5 separate regions of the Homo sapiens genome follow, and all the other regions are reported to be linked to region 2. The links are microRNA targets in miRTarBase. Many come from high-throughput screens and were not tested one by one. Region 2 holds a microRNA gene; each other region holds the end of a gene's coding sequence.
What was found. The annotated mature microRNA hsa-miR-3921 reads UCUCUGAGUACCAUAUGCCUUGU and lies in region 2 at 1,084-1,106, shown strand. An mRNA with a match to its seed (bases 2 to 7 or 8) in the 3' UTR can be bound and repressed. Matches are read on the target gene's strand: a 7mer-m8 pairs with bases 2 to 8, a 7mer-A1 pairs with bases 2 to 7 and ends in A, and an 8mer does both.

Region 1: the mRNA of APIP is a reported target of hsa-miR-3921. Seed matches in the 3' UTR shown: 8mer at 2,624-2,631.
Region 3: the mRNA of ZNF616 is a reported target of hsa-miR-3921. The part of its 3' UTR that is shown has no 7-base or 8-base seed match.
Region 4: miRTarBase lists ARL10 as a target of hsa-miR-3921. The part of its 3' UTR that is shown has no 7-base or 8-base seed match.
Region 5: miRTarBase lists VMA12 as a target of hsa-miR-3921. Seed matches in the 3' UTR shown: 7mer-A1 at 2,300-2,306.

What each region holds. Positions count from the first base shown.
Region 1 is chr11:34,879,798-34,882,966 of GRCh38, forward strand. APIP (APAF1 interacting protein) reads right to left here. Exons shown (of 7, transcript NM_015957.4): 7 at 2,498-3,019. The coding sequence ends at 2,920. Among named protein-coding and RNA genes, the nearest start is that of APIP, 35 kb to the right of the region's middle.
Region 2 is chr3:99,962,262-99,965,430 of GRCh38, reverse strand. It overlaps MIR3921 (microRNA 3921), which reads left to right and starts at 1,033; the gene lies at 1,033-1,117. The region is part of intron 1 of CMSS1 (cms1 ribosomal small subunit homolog); the gene reads right to left. The region is part of intron 1 of FILIP1L (filamin A interacting protein 1 like); the gene reads left to right. All of the region lies in intron 1 of LOC105374010 (a long non-coding RNA gene), which reads right to left.
Region 3 is chr19:52,111,957-52,115,125 of GRCh38, forward strand. It overlaps ZNF616 (zinc finger protein 616), which reads right to left. Exons shown (of 4, transcript NM_178523.5): 4 at 1,135-3,169. The coding sequence ends at 2,862. Among named protein-coding and RNA genes, the nearest start is that of ZNF841, 18 kb to the left of the region's middle.
Region 4 is chr5:176,371,712-176,374,711 of GRCh38, reverse strand. It overlaps ARL10 (ARF like GTPase 10), which reads right to left. Exons shown (of 4, transcript NM_173664.6): 4 at 1-2,990. The coding sequence ends at 2,817. Among named protein-coding and RNA genes, the nearest start is that of MIR1271, 5.3 kb to the right of the region's middle.
Region 5 is chr17:28,360,890-28,364,058 of GRCh38, reverse strand. It overlaps VMA12 (vacuolar ATPase assembly factor VMA12), which reads right to left. Exons shown (of 6, transcript NM_152464.3): 6 at 376-2,902. The coding sequence ends at 2,807. SEBOX (SEBOX homeobox) reads left to right here. Exons shown (of 3, transcript NM_001080837.4): 3 at 1-553. Among named protein-coding and RNA genes, the nearest start is that of MIR4723, 1.8 kb to the right of the region's middle.

The sequences.
Region 1 (3,169 bases), not on the chromosome of region 2:
CCATGCCTGGCTAATTTTTAAAATATTTTTAGTAGAGATGGGGTTTCACCATGTTGGCCAGGCTGATCTCGAAACTCCTGACCTCAGGTGATCCGCCTACTTCAGCCTCCCAAAGTGCTGGGATTACAGGCGTGAGCCACTGTGCTGGGCCTTGTAGTCCTGCTTTAAAGAAACTTGGTGGGAGAATTCAAATTGCCTCTTGAATAGTGATGTCAACATTATTAGTTCCACATCTGACCATCTTGACTAGAACTGCTGATGAGACATGGCAAAATTTTCTCAAAAGGGAGGTATTTGAACAAATTGAGATATAAAATGAAACACTCCTTAAGATTATGACTTTACCTTTCGGATTTTGGGACATTCTCTAGGGAACTATGTTATTTTGAAGTATCTCTCACAAGAAAGTTGGGTGGGACCAAAAGCCTCTAGAATCATTTGAGAAACAAATGATAGTCCCTTATTCAATCTGAGAGTGAATGGCATGTCCTGCACTTAATGAAATAAAAAATGTGTTTGATCTAGATCTCTTAGCAGTTTAATCCTGCATTCATAACCAAATTTTCCTCTTATTTAAAGAAGCTGGAATAACTGAGAGAACAACAATCACAAGGGCATGTGAAGAAGAATGCCTGCTTCCCCCTCCCTCATTCACTGAACACCTATGTGGCAGGCACTGAGGATTAGCTCCCAGCCTGGATTTGTATTCATCTTTGGACCTTGGCTCCTAGCAGTCACACAGGAGGGATCATATTCTTAAAAAAAAAGGATATTAACTAGGGGATACAGCCTTCCACCAGCTGTTCCCCTACCTCTAAAGCAGGTTTTGCAATCTTTTCTGCACTCCCAGGAAAGAAATATACAACTGGAGATGTGCTGCTGCTGCTGTATAGTTTAAATGGTTTACCTGCATGACAATTACTTTGAAGATAGCTAGGTGAGGGGTTTTTAGGAAAGGAAGTTTATATTTTGAGTGCATACATAGTATATGACAGGTACTGTGTTAAGAAGTTTACCTGTTTTCTCTTATTTAAATTCTACATATTTATTATTCCTATCTGAGCCTCAATTTTCTCATCTAAGAAAATAGGTACAATATCTATCTCAAAAGACTATTATGAGGATTAAAAGGGATTTTAAAAAACACTAATATTTATTGAACATCTACACTGGATTAAGCATTGTGGTTTGTTCCTCCACATACTTTATCTTATTCATTAGCTGCATTTTAAAATGAGGAAAATGAAATTAACCAGAGGTGGCTAAAACTATTTTTCCCCAGTGGAAGAACCTCCGCCAAGAATCCAGAAAACAGGCTGGGGGCAGTGGCTCATGCCTGTAATCACAGCACTTTGGGAGGCCGAGGTGGGCGGATCATTTGAGGCCAGGAGTTTGAGACCAGTCTGGCCAACATGGCGAAACCCTGTCTCTACTAAAATACAAAAATTAGCCGGGGGTGGTAGCATGCCTGTGATCCCAGCTACTTGGGAGGCTGAGGCAGGAGAATCGCTTGAACCCAGGAGATGGAGGTTGCAGTAAGCCAAGATGGTGCTACTGCACTCCAGCCTGGGTGACAGAGCAAGACTGTCACAAAAAAAAAAAAAAAAAAAAAAGAAAAAACAAACAAACCCAGATACAGGCAAGGTTGCAGGGAAAAGGGAACCCTTACATAGTGTTGGTAGGAGTGCAAATTAGTTCAAACATTGTGGAAAGCAGTATGGCAATTCCTCAAAGAGCTAAAAGCAGAACAACCATTTGACCCAGCAATCCTATTATTACTGGGTATATACCTGAAGGAATATAAAGCATTCTACCATAACGACACATGCACACAAATGTTCACTGCAGCACTATTCACAAGAGTAAAGACACGGAATCAACCTAAATGCCCATCAGTGACAGAATGGATAAGGAAAATATGGTACATATACACCATGGAATATTATGCAGCCATAGAAAAGAACAAGATTATGTCTTTTGCGGGAACATGGATGGAGCTGGAGGCTATTATTCTTAGCAAACTAACACAGTAACAGAAAACCAAATACTGCATGTTCTCACTTCTAAGTGGGAGCTAAATGGCAATAACTTATGACTACAAAGAAGGAAACAACAGACACTGGGGTCTACTTGATGGCGGAGGGTGGGAGGAGGAAGAAGAGCATAAAAGATAACTATTGGATACTGAACTTAATACCCGGGTGATGTAATAATATGTACAACAAACCCCTGTGACATGTGTTTGTCTATGTAACAAACCTTCATGTGGGCCCCCAAACCTAAAATTTAAAACAATTTTAAAGAAAGGACTTTCTGATTACATCATCGGTTTGATCAAGATTTGTTTGGTTAAGGGAATTTGAGTTGATACCACCTGACCTGAATTTCACAACTGATCCCAATATAAAATGAGTGTCCTGTTGTAGACCACAGGGAAACACTAAAGCTAATAGGGGAAATCTATAAAATTATTTTGACATTAACATTGAGGGATAAATTTGGACTTAATGTTTCATATTTATTTTCTGACACCAACATTAAAACAAGAGAATGCTCATTCCACAATGAGGAAATTTTCTAATGAATTTTATTATCACCAGCATCTTTAAAAATTAAGAGGAATTCTCTGAGAGTATATATAAAAAAGAAATTAAAGGCAAATATTTTGCTGTTAAGGATTTAAAAATAAACAGAAACATAGAGTATAAAATTTTCATTTCACTGTGCCCTCATTTAAAATTATAAGAATATAAGCAAATAACATCCAATGTCAGAAGAGATTCAGGGTGACCATTTGCAGTATTTAGTGGCAAATTAGTAGCATCATGAAAAATTTCAATTCATTTAAAAAAATAGCTTTCATTTAAATAATAATTACGTTTAGCTTTATCTCTGTATATAATTAGACTTTCTTTTGGCTTAGACAATTCCATTTTCTCCAACTGGGAGCTGTGAAGGATCAAGTCCTACTTTCTTCATTGATACGGCAATATCAAATAAATAGTCATAACACTCACACCTGTAAAAGAAAAAGCAAAAAGAACCAGTGTTTATCGAAACAGAGTTCTCCAATCCTAAAGAATCACATTTCTCCTCTCTTGCAGTTAACTCTGCTTTGTTCCTAGTATGTATTTTCTCTCAATTCTAGGCCAAAATTCTATTTTTCCCT
Region 2 (3,169 bases):
TGCTGGTACATCCACAGAGTACACTACGCCAGAAGCAGCACATGCCATAGCACCTGACTGGGCAACAGAGAGAAATGTGACAGCCTGCACCAGTAAGAACACAGGCCAACCTTTCATTCTTGATAAAAAATTATAAAACTCCCACATATACAAAGAACACAGGAAAGAAAGTCATAAACCACTTGGACTCAAAGGAAAAATACCTGACTCATATATTTGTTTCACAATTTAAGCACATATCCCTCATCTCACAGTGGGGACTAAGTGATATGCTTGGCTAGTAGGATTAACATTGCTTCAGAAAACATTTTCCTGGACCAATGTAATCTTTCAAGGTAATTACTAGAAAATAACACTTGTAAATTTCCTTTAAAACTTTATAAGGTATCATAATTTATTTACAGATACAGCAGTATCTAAGTATATCAGGTACTTCAAGAAATACAATGAAAAGGATCATGTTTCTTTTTGGTTTGAAGAACAATTTTTATACAGAGTCTTAAAGCCTGGGAAACTATTGTATCTGTGCACTATGGGACTGATGTTCAAGTGATCTAATATTAACTTAGGAAAGAGTTTTTCCACAGTTACAGGGAGCATAGTAGATGAGAGGTGTGTGAAGGTATGATCCCCCTTGGGTAGCCTGGAGGTTTCTGGGCATTAGTCTCCTAGGGGACCTCTTTCTTCGGCTGCCCTCCAAAGCCTCCTTTGTTTACCATACTGTTCTAGACAAATATTCCCAGCTTCTCTGTGAGCCATATTGAGAAACAGGTTGGGAAGCTCTAGCTTAGGAAACACATTTCCTTTTGGCCCTAGACACACAGAGAAGATCACTACAAGAACCTGATTCAATGTCAGAGTGATATGGTGCAAAGAACAGAGTGAGGAATGAGATTTGGGTTTTGGCACAGGCTTTCTCACTACCTAGCTCTGAGCCCTGAGCAGATCACTTACCTGTCAGGACCTTGACTGCCTCACTATAATGTAAGTGGTTTGGCCTTGATCCTGTTTAAGGACCCATCCTAAACATCACCTAGCCCAGTACAAGGCATATGGTACTCAAGAGACTTAGAAATCCCTAAGTCTCTGAGTACCATATGCCTTGTACTGGGCTAGGGAGAAACTAGACACAGACACTGTCCCTATTCTCATGGAACCTGTAACCTAGCTAGAGGTAAGATCATTAATCAAGATAAATATTGATAAATAAAAATTAAATCTAACTGAAGCGTAATGGATTTGGAAGATAGAATTATCACTGCTTATAAAAACTCAATGTACTTCCTACTGAGCATATAAGTCTATAGGGTAAATCTGCACCACAGAACGAGTCTATGCCCTCTGTTTTTATTTAATCACATAACAATTATTATGTTCAAATATTCAAACATGGGCTTGAAGATTATAAAGTCATGTGAAATCAGCTTCACCTTGGTTGTACCTGGGAGCTCCTGCCTGGCCTACTGATCATTTTCGTTATGACACATTTTAATTAAGTCATTAACAAATGGATGTGGCTGGGCGCGGTGGCTCACACCTGTAATCCCAGGACTTTGGGAGGCTGAGGCAGGCAGATCACAAGATGAGGAGTTCAAGACCAGCTTGGCCAACATGGTGAAACCCTGTCTCTGCTAAAAATACAAAAATTAGCTGAGCATGGTGGCGTGTGCCTGTAATCCCCAGCTACTCAGGAAGCTGAGACAGGAGAATTGCTCGAACCAGGACCCTGGAGGCGAGGCTGCAGTGAACCGAGATCACGCCACTGCACTCCAGCCTGGGCTACAGAGCGACACTCCGTCTAAAAAAAAAGAAAAAAAAAATGGATGCATATTCAGGTAACACCATCAAGGCAAAGAGGAGTGCTAAAAGTCTTCTCTGACACAAAATGTAAATATCCCGCTCAATCAACATTCTTTCTTATCCTTCTAATACTTTCAAGCAGTTGCTCCCACTTCACTTCTTTTTGGACCCACAGAGACCGTCAGCCCCTTACTTCTGTGCTATATCCTTATATAACAGCCCACTCTTATTTTTACTTCTTTTCCTATATAGCACAGGCTCCACGGATCATGACTTCAAACTTTCTCTTATTTATCTTCATCCCTTCTGTTCCCAAGAAGCACTTACCTGCATATATCCACCACATGGGATCAGTCAACACTAGGGTAAAATCACTGCTAGTGGAAAACCACACACTATTCTGGGGCAACTATACCTTCATGGTTGCTAGCATTAAGTGGCTTGATTTGGAAAGGTTTCCCTAAGAGTAAGAGCATTTCGAACTTTCTCTGGTGCACTGTTATCCTAATTATTTTACCCTCTGTAGGCAGGCTAAACCCTCTTTGACAGTGGCAGAAGGCAGGGAGAGAAACTAAGGCTGCAAGCAACCTCAACGGCTGGTAAAACCCAGGCTAGCTCCTAAAATCCATCAAGAGAGCAATCTCTTCCATGCAGCAATGCCTGTGAGTAACATGTGAAATATGGATGAATACTTGCTTTATTTATCTCGGCCATGAACATTCCAGTGAGTATGTAGTTGTGACCATAAACAGCAGGCTACAGCCATTGTCTTAAGGCACCCTCAGAGTACTTCATCTATGACTTAAATCTTTCCCAATTTGTTCTTAGGGGCTGCAGCCAAATCCTAGCTCTCCCACTTAGCTTTCTAACTTTTGGGAAGTTATTTAAACTAACTGTATCTGAGGATAATACCTACCTCATAGAGTTAATGTGGACATTCTATTTCTTACTGTAACAGGACCAGGCCTACAGTGCTATATGTGTTTGTTGCTGTTGTTGTTGTTATTATTAATTATAATCCTGTGTATAAAAGCCACCAAAGTTTCTCACAGTCATAAGAATGTTAAAACAATATTATCTCTTCCTCTTCTTTCTCCAAACATATTGTTGCTGGAGAAATGGTCATGCTACTGAAAGAGCTATATCTGTCTAACCCTAATGACTGAATATATCCTTTCTCTAACAACAAAAGATAATATACAAAATATTCCAAAACCTAAATGACCTCATGCAGAACCTTTTATGTTGCCCATAGTAATTATGTTCCCAAGAGAACAATAAATATCCTTCCTGATGAGGACTGCCCATCATCTTCCACTCTCCCATCACATGCGACCTCATCTTCCCACTGTTAGCCCTGGTTTCTGCC
Region 3 (3,169 bases), not on the chromosome of region 2:
GGACTATGGTATGGGCAAAAATCTATGTTGTTTGATTTCGCCATAGAAAACAATTGTCGCACATTATTTTAACCAGCAGAGTGTAATGCAGTGTCTGTTAGAAGTTCTTTACTAAGGTGGGATAAATCTGTGTTGGTGAAAGGAACGTCACTGAGTTACGAAAACGAATAACATTTTATTAATTGAACCATGAGACTTCTGATACATTTTGAATGTAACAGCAGTAAAATATAGAGTAAATACTTCAATGTGAATCTGGCCTGTGACCATGCTATTCTGATTCTTTTGATTAAATTCTCCTCTCTGATAACTGCTGTCTTCCACTTCCAAGAATAAGACTAATTTTACATTTATCTTTGCTATATAACAGCTGTCATTCAATGGAGATGATCATCATTTCCTCTGCATTATTTCTCCCACACAATCCATCCCTAGTAACCTATCACTTGCCTCTCATGAATACCCTTAATATTCCATCAATGTCCTCACTGGTATTTCAGTCAGTTGGTTGTGCAATTATTTTCTACAACCCAAAGTGGCACTCTACGTGTTCATGGACACCTGGAACACAAGCACAACTTACATCATAAACTTACATTATTCTCCCAGTTACTCCATGGTGTGTAACTCACAGAATATTGAATTTTAAAATTCAGTGACCTTAATCTTCAGGAAGCATGGAAATGAAGGAGCCACACTGAATGAAGGAGGCTCTCTCATCTTGTTGATTCATTCCCAGATACCACAATGAAGGATATGTAAGGAAGATGATAGACTTCAAACCTTAGGATAAACGTCATAGTCTAGTAGCTATTTTAAGAAACGCCCCATTGGCCAGGTGTGGTGGCTCATGCCTGTAATCTCAGCAACGTGTGAGGCCAAGGTGGCAAATCACTTGAGGCCAGGAGCTTGAGATCAGCCTGGCAAACATGGTAAAACACCATCTCTACAAAAAAATATAAAAATTATCTGGACATGGTGGCATGACTGTAATCCCAGCTACTTGGGAGGCTGAGGCACAAATTGCTTGAAACCAGGATGTGGAAGTTACAGTGAGGTGAACTGGTGCCACTGCACTACAGCATGGGGAACAGAGCAAGACTGTCACAAAAGAAAAAAAACAGAAACCTCAAATTTAATGTAATATTTTATAAACTGAATGAGCCATTTTCACACATGCACTTGCTCCTTTAAAATACATACTGTCCTGAGTTTTAACAAATGTTGTCTGGTAGTTATTCTGTAATAATATTCCAGGCCAATCTTGGAGAAGCAGATTTGGTTATCCCTAGTATGATTTCAAAGATGTGTAGTCTGTTTAAAAAACTGGTTGAAATTTGTGCCACATTGATTACATTTCCAAGTTTTCTCTCAAGTAGGGATAATTTGGTAAAGGCTGAAGACACACTACTGCTTCCAGGTCCTTTCATGTTCAGCATACTTACAGGATTTTTCTCCTTTATACGTTCAATCAAACTGCAAAGGCGTGGACATTGGTTTTGTCTCACTTTAAGTTCTGGGTACATGTGCACAATTTGCAAATTTGTTACATAGGAAAATGTGTGCCATGGTGGTTTGCTGCATCTACCAACCCATCACCTGGTATTAAGGCAAAAATGCATTAGCTATTTGTCCTGATGCTCCACTTCCCTGCCCTTCCCACCCCCATCAGCAGGCCCCAGTGTGTGTTGCTCCCCTCCCTGGGTATATGTGTTCTCATTGTTCAGCTTCCACTTTTAAGTGAGAACATGTGCTGTTTGATTTTCTGTTCCTGTGTTAGTTTCCTGAGGATAATGGCTTCCAGCTCCATCCACATCGCTGCAATGGACATGATCTCATTCCTTTCTATGGCTGCATAGTATCCCATGGTGTATATGTACCACATTTTCTTTATTCAGTCTATCACTGATAAGCATTTGGGTTGATTCCAGGTCTTTGAACATTTCATTTTTTAAAACCATTTATTTGGAAGGTTGTCTCTAGTATGAATACTCTTTCCATTTTGATGTTCGGGTAAAAACCTTAGCATGCACATTACATTTCTGTGGTTCCTCTCAAAGATGTATATTCTGATGCCTAGTGAGTTCCAATGCCTGGGGAAAGCCTCTGACACATACATTTATATGATTTCCTTTCAGTATAAACTCTCTTATGACAAGTAGTGATTGAACTCTAGTAAAGGTTTTGCCACCCTCATTTCATTTCATACATCTATGCCCTTTTAATTACCTAGATTTACAAGTTCTGGCTTTTGAGTAGAATTCTTGCCACACGTATTACACTTCTGTGATTTTTCTCCAGGATGTATACATCCTGGAATATATATACAAATTCTTACACCTAGTGAGTAGTGAATACTAGCTTAAAACTTAGGTATATTTACTGCATGTGTAAATGTATTAGGTCATAACTGCATTGCTACAAAAAAAAACCTGAGGCTGGCTAATGTATAAAGAAAAGAGTTTAATTGGCTCATATTTCTGAAGGCTTAAATGAAAACATGGTGCTGGCATCTGATCACCCTCTAGGGAAGCCTCAGGAAGGTTAAAATCATGGTGGAAGGCAAAGCGGGTGTCGGTATTTCACATGGTGAGAATGAGGGCAAGCGACAGGGAAGTGCTATGCACTTCTAAACAGCCAGACCTCAAGAGAAGTCACTATTGCCAGGACAGCACCAAGGGGATGACGCTACATCTTTCTCAGTTTGAGAAATCCACTTCCATGATTCAATCACCTCCCAATGGGCCCCACCTCCAATACTGGAGATTACAATTCCACAGGGATTTCAAGAGAAGGGGTAAATATACAAGGTATATCAGTAAGTAGGAATTATTCGGTGATTCCAGAAACTAGGACAACGTCTAAGGCCTTGTCACATTGAGTTTAGTTGTAAGGCTCTCTCCAGTATGTCTTATTCGATGTTTAGTGAGGCCTGAGCGACAAATAAAAGATTTCCCACACTCATTACATTTATAAGGTTTTTTGCCAGAATGAATTCTTTGGTGTTTGCTGAGGGAAAACAACCGCCCAAAGGCTTTGCCACATTCAATACATTTGTATCTTTTCTCTCCAGTGTGGATTCTCTGGTGACTTACAAGATGTGAACTATGCCTGAATACCTTGCCACATTCATCACATTTATATGGTTTCTTTCCTGCATGAATTATCT
Region 4 (3,000 bases), not on the chromosome of region 2:
AACTAAAAAATCAAACACTTTACAATTAAGGTACTTCATAGTGAACTATGTCCTTAATTGCCATTATACCCTGAACAGGCTATGAGCAGCAGAGCTTGCACGCTGTTGAACTATTTTTATCGTCTGAACTTGAGTTGTTTGATTCCAATCAGTTTGGTTTGTGGAGACTCATATTAAGGGATGCATTCCAGTTTCTTGGTATTACACTCCTGATAGCCATCCTAAGGTCCCCACTGATGTGTTGTAGTCTTAAGTACACCAATGCAGTCATCCTTTGTACCTCAAATGGTCTCATTACGGTTAGAGTAACAGAAACATGAAGACATACAGAATCCGCTAACTGATTTAACATTGTAAACTGTGAGTTCCATAATGAGGTCAAATAGTGACAGAAGGTAGTGTCAGTGCGTGGGATTTTGGTCAATCTCTCAAAATTAAGGGGCTGAGCAAAATGAGGGACACTGTGAAGCTGAATTAAGTCTGGCCTAAAGCTGCCTCTGTACACAGTGAATTGTAACTTAACGTGTAAACAACTCGTAACCTAACCTAAAAGTATGTTCTTCTAACAAGTAGCCGAATTTTAGCCAATCACAGCAGCCAAACCTTCAGTCAATCGTCGGCTGAAGGCTGCTAAAACATGTTCAGGTAAGGCAAATGCCAGACTGCAGCCAATCAGGCAACCTAAGTTATTTTCGTTTCTCTGGCTATAAATGTAGCCTACACACATTGTGGGGCTGAGCATTCTGAACTGCTTTTGGTGCTAAGTACTAACCAGTTCACGAATCTTTTTTCTGCTCAAAAACAGAACATACTTTTTAAACTTCGTTAAAGTTGTCTAAGGTTTTTTTGCCTTCAAGCCCTGAAGAACAAGGAGTTCATAGAACAAAGGAGAAAAGTCTCTTAGCCTTCCAATGACAAAATGAAAAGCTGCCAGCAAAGTTTCAAAGGCTACTCTGAAACCCAAGTCATTCTTAAAATTTTACATAAAAGCCCATAAATCACTTCTTACTGCAGAAAGTGAACCAGCACTTTCAAGAACAGTGATTCTTCAAATGGCGCCCAAGGGCACAGCAGCCACTATTCCAAAGATCACACTCGCTTCTGGACTTCAGAATTTCCCACCCTCCTTGCGGCTTGTTGAACTGTTTTTATCATAGTTCCTCTTCTTACACTGGTCACGGTGTGGAACTGAGGCATGCTGGGTAAATGTCAAATGAAATGAAGGCACACAATCTCTATTCTCAACTAGACAGCAAATTGAGGTGCACAGCTCCTCTTAAAAAAAAAATCCATTTGTGGTTGTTGATTTAGTGGTCCCTAACAGACAACAGGCTCCTCTTTGCCTGTACCGATAATAAGTGTCAGTACAGAGCCAGTCCTTCAATTGGGCTGATCGCCAAGCACTGGAGAACTATGGAATGTGCACTGATGAGAACTCCAGAAATTCAGTCCAACTTGGCTTTCACTGGGGAAAAATTGGGTCCAGAAAGGCTGAGTGATGTACCCAAGGCCATCCCGTTGGCTGGTCTGCTATTCCTGTCCTTAGGATCACATAATACAATTTTTTTCCATCTTTTTACCTAGATTCACATAAGGGAAATCCTCTCCCAGAGTCATTTCTTATCTACCCAGAAGGAATTTGCACCCTTTCAACATCCTGGGCCAAGTGGTGGCGTTTCAGTTCATGTGAATCCATGTAAAGTACTATGATATCGACGACAGCCTCAAAGCCAGGTGGGAGGAGGAACCCACAACTTTGTCTCCACTGACATCTGTATGTTATCTCATTGTCATTCATGATTCCAGCTATTTTCCTAAGTTCCAAATTTTCTATGACTGTCATCTGGGGTTTTGAAAACAGCACCTAGAAACAGAGCCTAGAACTCTGGCCTGTTCTGCTTATAAATTAATAAATAAAATGCAGTTCTGAGGTCAACACCTAGCTCCAGTTGACTGTCGTCCCAGGGACACAGGCTCCTTCCTTCCCCTGACTTCTGTAAACATGGGCACTGGCACAGTTAGTACGAGAGCAGCAGCTTGTCTCCAGATTAGAGGGGAAAAACCCAGCCTTCACTTTTTCTGTTTGGTGGGTGAATATCAGTTATTCTGTAGTCAAGAGAGGCTGGCAGGCCAGGCCTGGGCTCAGGGAAAGGCAGGGAGGTCTTCAGAAAGCTCCTTGCTAGGATGGCCAGGTTCATCCTAGCACTTCACACTCCCATGGCTGGGAAAGGCATCTCCGAATTAGGAAACCACCTCCCTTTAAAAATAATGGCCCTGGGGTCAGAGAGGCAGAGATTGCACAAGGCCACAAGTCACTTAGGTGGAGCTGGGGCTGGACAATGCAGGACAGGAACAAAGGCTTGCTGTGTCACCACTCAGAAGCTGCCCACATGAGAAGGGCATGACGTCACCAGACTGTTTCTGGACTGGGAGACCTTGAGGCTCTAGGAGTATTTCTGACACCTACACTGGTTCCTCAGGTACCGGGACCTGTAGTGGAGGATTGAGCCCACTGAGCATCTCACTGTACAGGTAAGAGAAGGGAAAGCTGGATCCACATTCCAGCCTGGAATGAGCCAGACACTATCCTCCCCACCCTCTGTCTCACCCACCTCCCTGCTTCGGCTTCACGGCCACCTCACCAGGAAGGCTTCTGCATGGTTCTTGGCCTTGCCCAGGCCCTGCTCTTGAAAGGCAAAGGAGGGGAAAAGGGAAATGCTGCCATGTGGCTCTTGCCCCAGGCCCAGTCTGGCAATGAAGCAGCAGCAGTACAACTATGGTCTTGACAGGCAGGTGGCAAGCAGGAGAGCTCCAGCCTAGGAGAGGAGCTCCAAGAGCAGTTTCCAGATGTGCACGGTGCCAGGCTCTTCAAAGGTGGGTCCTGCAGGGGCAATGCTGGCTGCCAAGAGGAAAACCTCCCGCTGGTTATCGATAGCCTGTAGACCCAGCTCCCGCTGCAGCTCCCCCATACTCATGGCCTCGCTCAGGTCCTGGGTGAGA
Region 5 (3,169 bases), not on the chromosome of region 2:
TCCTGCCACCCCACACCCTGACCCCTTTGGGGCATATGCTCATTGTTGTGGCAGGTGGTACCTTCAGAAGGATGAGATGAGGGTCATGTTTTCCTCCACTCTTGCCAGGCCTGGTCCCCAGTTCTCACCAGCTGATGGCCTCCTCCTTCTGAAGGGGCAGGCTCCTGTCTCCTGAGGTCTCTCCAGGCCATTACCTTGCTAACTGCTAAGTGAGGTAGGAGAGGAGAGTGCTGCTCCTCATCTAGACTGCTGGAGAGCCAACTTCTTTATGGGTCAGGGCCCCCTCTCTTGACCATCGACCACCTGGACAAATTAATCAGAACTACGGATGTGAAGAGGGAGTGGCATTAAAGTAATGAAGCAAAGATAGGAAGCTGGGGCTTATGTTGATTTAATTTTCACAAAGATCAGATTGGATGCCCTCTGATGTGGGGCTGTGGAGACAACCTGACAGATCTGGGATGGAGGCAGGTATAGCAGCATTGGGTTTTGGTATCACCATCACCTGTAATACCAACTAATCTCCAAATAAAACCCAAACTCTGTACCTTAATCTGGATTGTTGTGCTCTGCAAACGAACGGGGACGAGGGCCGTTTGCCATGGAAATTTATCTCCATCACCTAATCCCTAAATAGGGCCAGGTTCCACACAGATACCTCTTGGTGGGAGGTATTACCCAGGCTTCAGCTGGGATTAGAGGGATAGTTAATTGAAGGGTTTAGGACTCTGACTGACAAGACCCTGGGGAGATGAGAGCCTCTGCTAGCACCCCCAGCTCCTGGTCCCACTGAATCTAGGACATTCCAGTCACCTCCACCTCTGGAGCTGCTCTGCTTTGGAGAGAAAACCATGGTGTTTGCGGTCTGCACTGGATTCAAATCCTGACTTTGCGATGTAACTGTGGCAACTCTGGAACTCTATGTGACTAAAAAATGGGGATACTTATTTGCTCTCTGTTTGGGGTATAAGAAATAATGTAGGTAAAGGGCTTTACATGGTGTGTAACACATCGTAAAAACTCAGTAAACGCTAGTTCCCTCTCCAGACAGGCCCTAAGAAACTGGGAAGGCCCTAAACTTCTTGTTCTTCCCACCTCCTGCCAAGCAGTCCCTGGACCCAGAGTGCATTACAGAAAGCATGGCACAGTGAGGCAGGAGTGGCTAGCAGATGAGAGAGCTCCCTTCTATATGCTGAGAACTGGAGGATAGGGCATTTGGTTCTCCCCTCCCAGTGCCCCCTGCTTTTTCATTGAGACAAGGTCTCACTCTGTCATCCAGGCTAGAGTGCAATAGCATGATCTTGGCTTACTCAGCTTACTGCAACCTCTGCCTCCCAGGCTCAAGTGATCCTCCCACCTTAGCCTCCTGAGTAGCTGGGACTACAGGCGTGCGCTACCATGTCAGCTAATTTCTGCGTTTTTTTGTAGAGATGGGCTTTTGCCATGTTGCCCAGGCTGGTCTCAAACTCCTGAACTCAAGCATCCTCCCACCTTGGTCTCCCAAAGTGCTGGGATTACAGGCATGTACCACCACGCCTGGCTAATTTTTTTGTATTTTTAGTAAAGATGGGGTTTCGCTATATTGGCCATGCTGGTCTTAAACTCCCAACCTCAAGTGATCCGCCTGCCTCAGCCTCCCAAAATGCTACGATTACAGGTGTGAGCCACCTCACCTGGCCCAGTGTAGCTTTTTAACACAAATTTTATATAGCTCAGGTTACTGGAAACACTGTAAAATGCCACCTACTTTTTCTTTTCACAGCTGACACTTCTCCCAACTAACAGAAACTGGCAAACATTGTAGAGGAAGTGTCCACTGAGTGAATGAGTATATAATTTATGAAAACAGAAAAGTGCTTTGGAAAAAAAAAAAAAGACAACAGGAGTACATACAGTGAACCAAAAAGAGTGTACCAGGAGGAGCAGACCCTGAACAGTTAGAACTATGGAAATCGCTATGCTTTGTGTTGTCACAGGAGTTAAAATAGGAATACCCTGCATACAATAAATATTTATTGGATAAATAACTAAGCCTGATACCCTTTTCAATGCGTTATACAGACTCTATCATCACACCACTAATCTAAGTTCTCAGAAGTTAAACATTACAAGACTTCAGAACAACATAGGCGTCTTTGGCTCCATTTAACAGAAGAAGGACCATAGTGATCATTTAATCTCTATGAGTCTGTCTTATCTTCTGGAAAAGGGGCCTAACACCATTTCCTTTTGCAAAAAGGTAGCTGCCTTGCTTCCAGTTCTACCATCCTCTAGCAACCCATCTTTCTCTTATTTGATGTCTCTGATCAGCTCCTCTTCCAGCACAAACTGGAGAAAGGGGATCCTTTCTGTTTTCTTGGAGGCTTCTGAACTCAATTACAGGTCTGCATTAAAAATGTATGGAGAAAGCTGGTGATCAGTTTGTACATATGGACAAGTTCAAGGCAGTATGGTCTACTTCTGGGAAGGCCTGGATTCCATTTGCTCCTGATGGAAAAACCCTAGTCCCAGCAGTGTTTAGAATGAACTGGAGAAGGCAGATGGGTACCAGATTCAGGAAGAGGTACTGATAGACCAAGACCAGTTCTTTCTGTTTTAAAGATGTGTTATCTCAATCTCCTCCAATGCTCCCTTTGGAAATTCACAGAAGATTAGGGCTCCCCACAGAAACAGCAGCTGGCCTGGGCTGGTCTTCTGACTAACTGGAGCTGAATACAAAAAGTCTGATGGGTTGACTGAGTCGGTGACTGCCAATTGGAGCCTGAAGCCCCCAAAGTCTTCTCTAGACTTGATGATGAAGCACCAGTTACAGTTCTCCCAGCTCGCCTTCCATTGCCCGCACCATGACATACAGCTCGGCCAGACCCACCACAGAGGCGACGATCAATGCAGCTAGCACCCGCTGGAGATGGGGAGAACCAGGCTTAAGGGATGCAGGCCAACAACCAGCTCTGTACCCCAGCAACTTTAATGAGGATGGAGAGCCCCCCAACCACCCTCTAAGTTGGGGGAGGGGAAGAAAAGAGAATGTGGCTTCTCCTGGGGTTATTACCTAACCTCCCGTGACTGCTGGAAAGCTCTAATGCTCCCCTTATTAATGGCATAAATATCTGTTCAATACCTAACCTGTGCAAGGCACTTTCACATACGTCCTCCCTTACCCACTAAC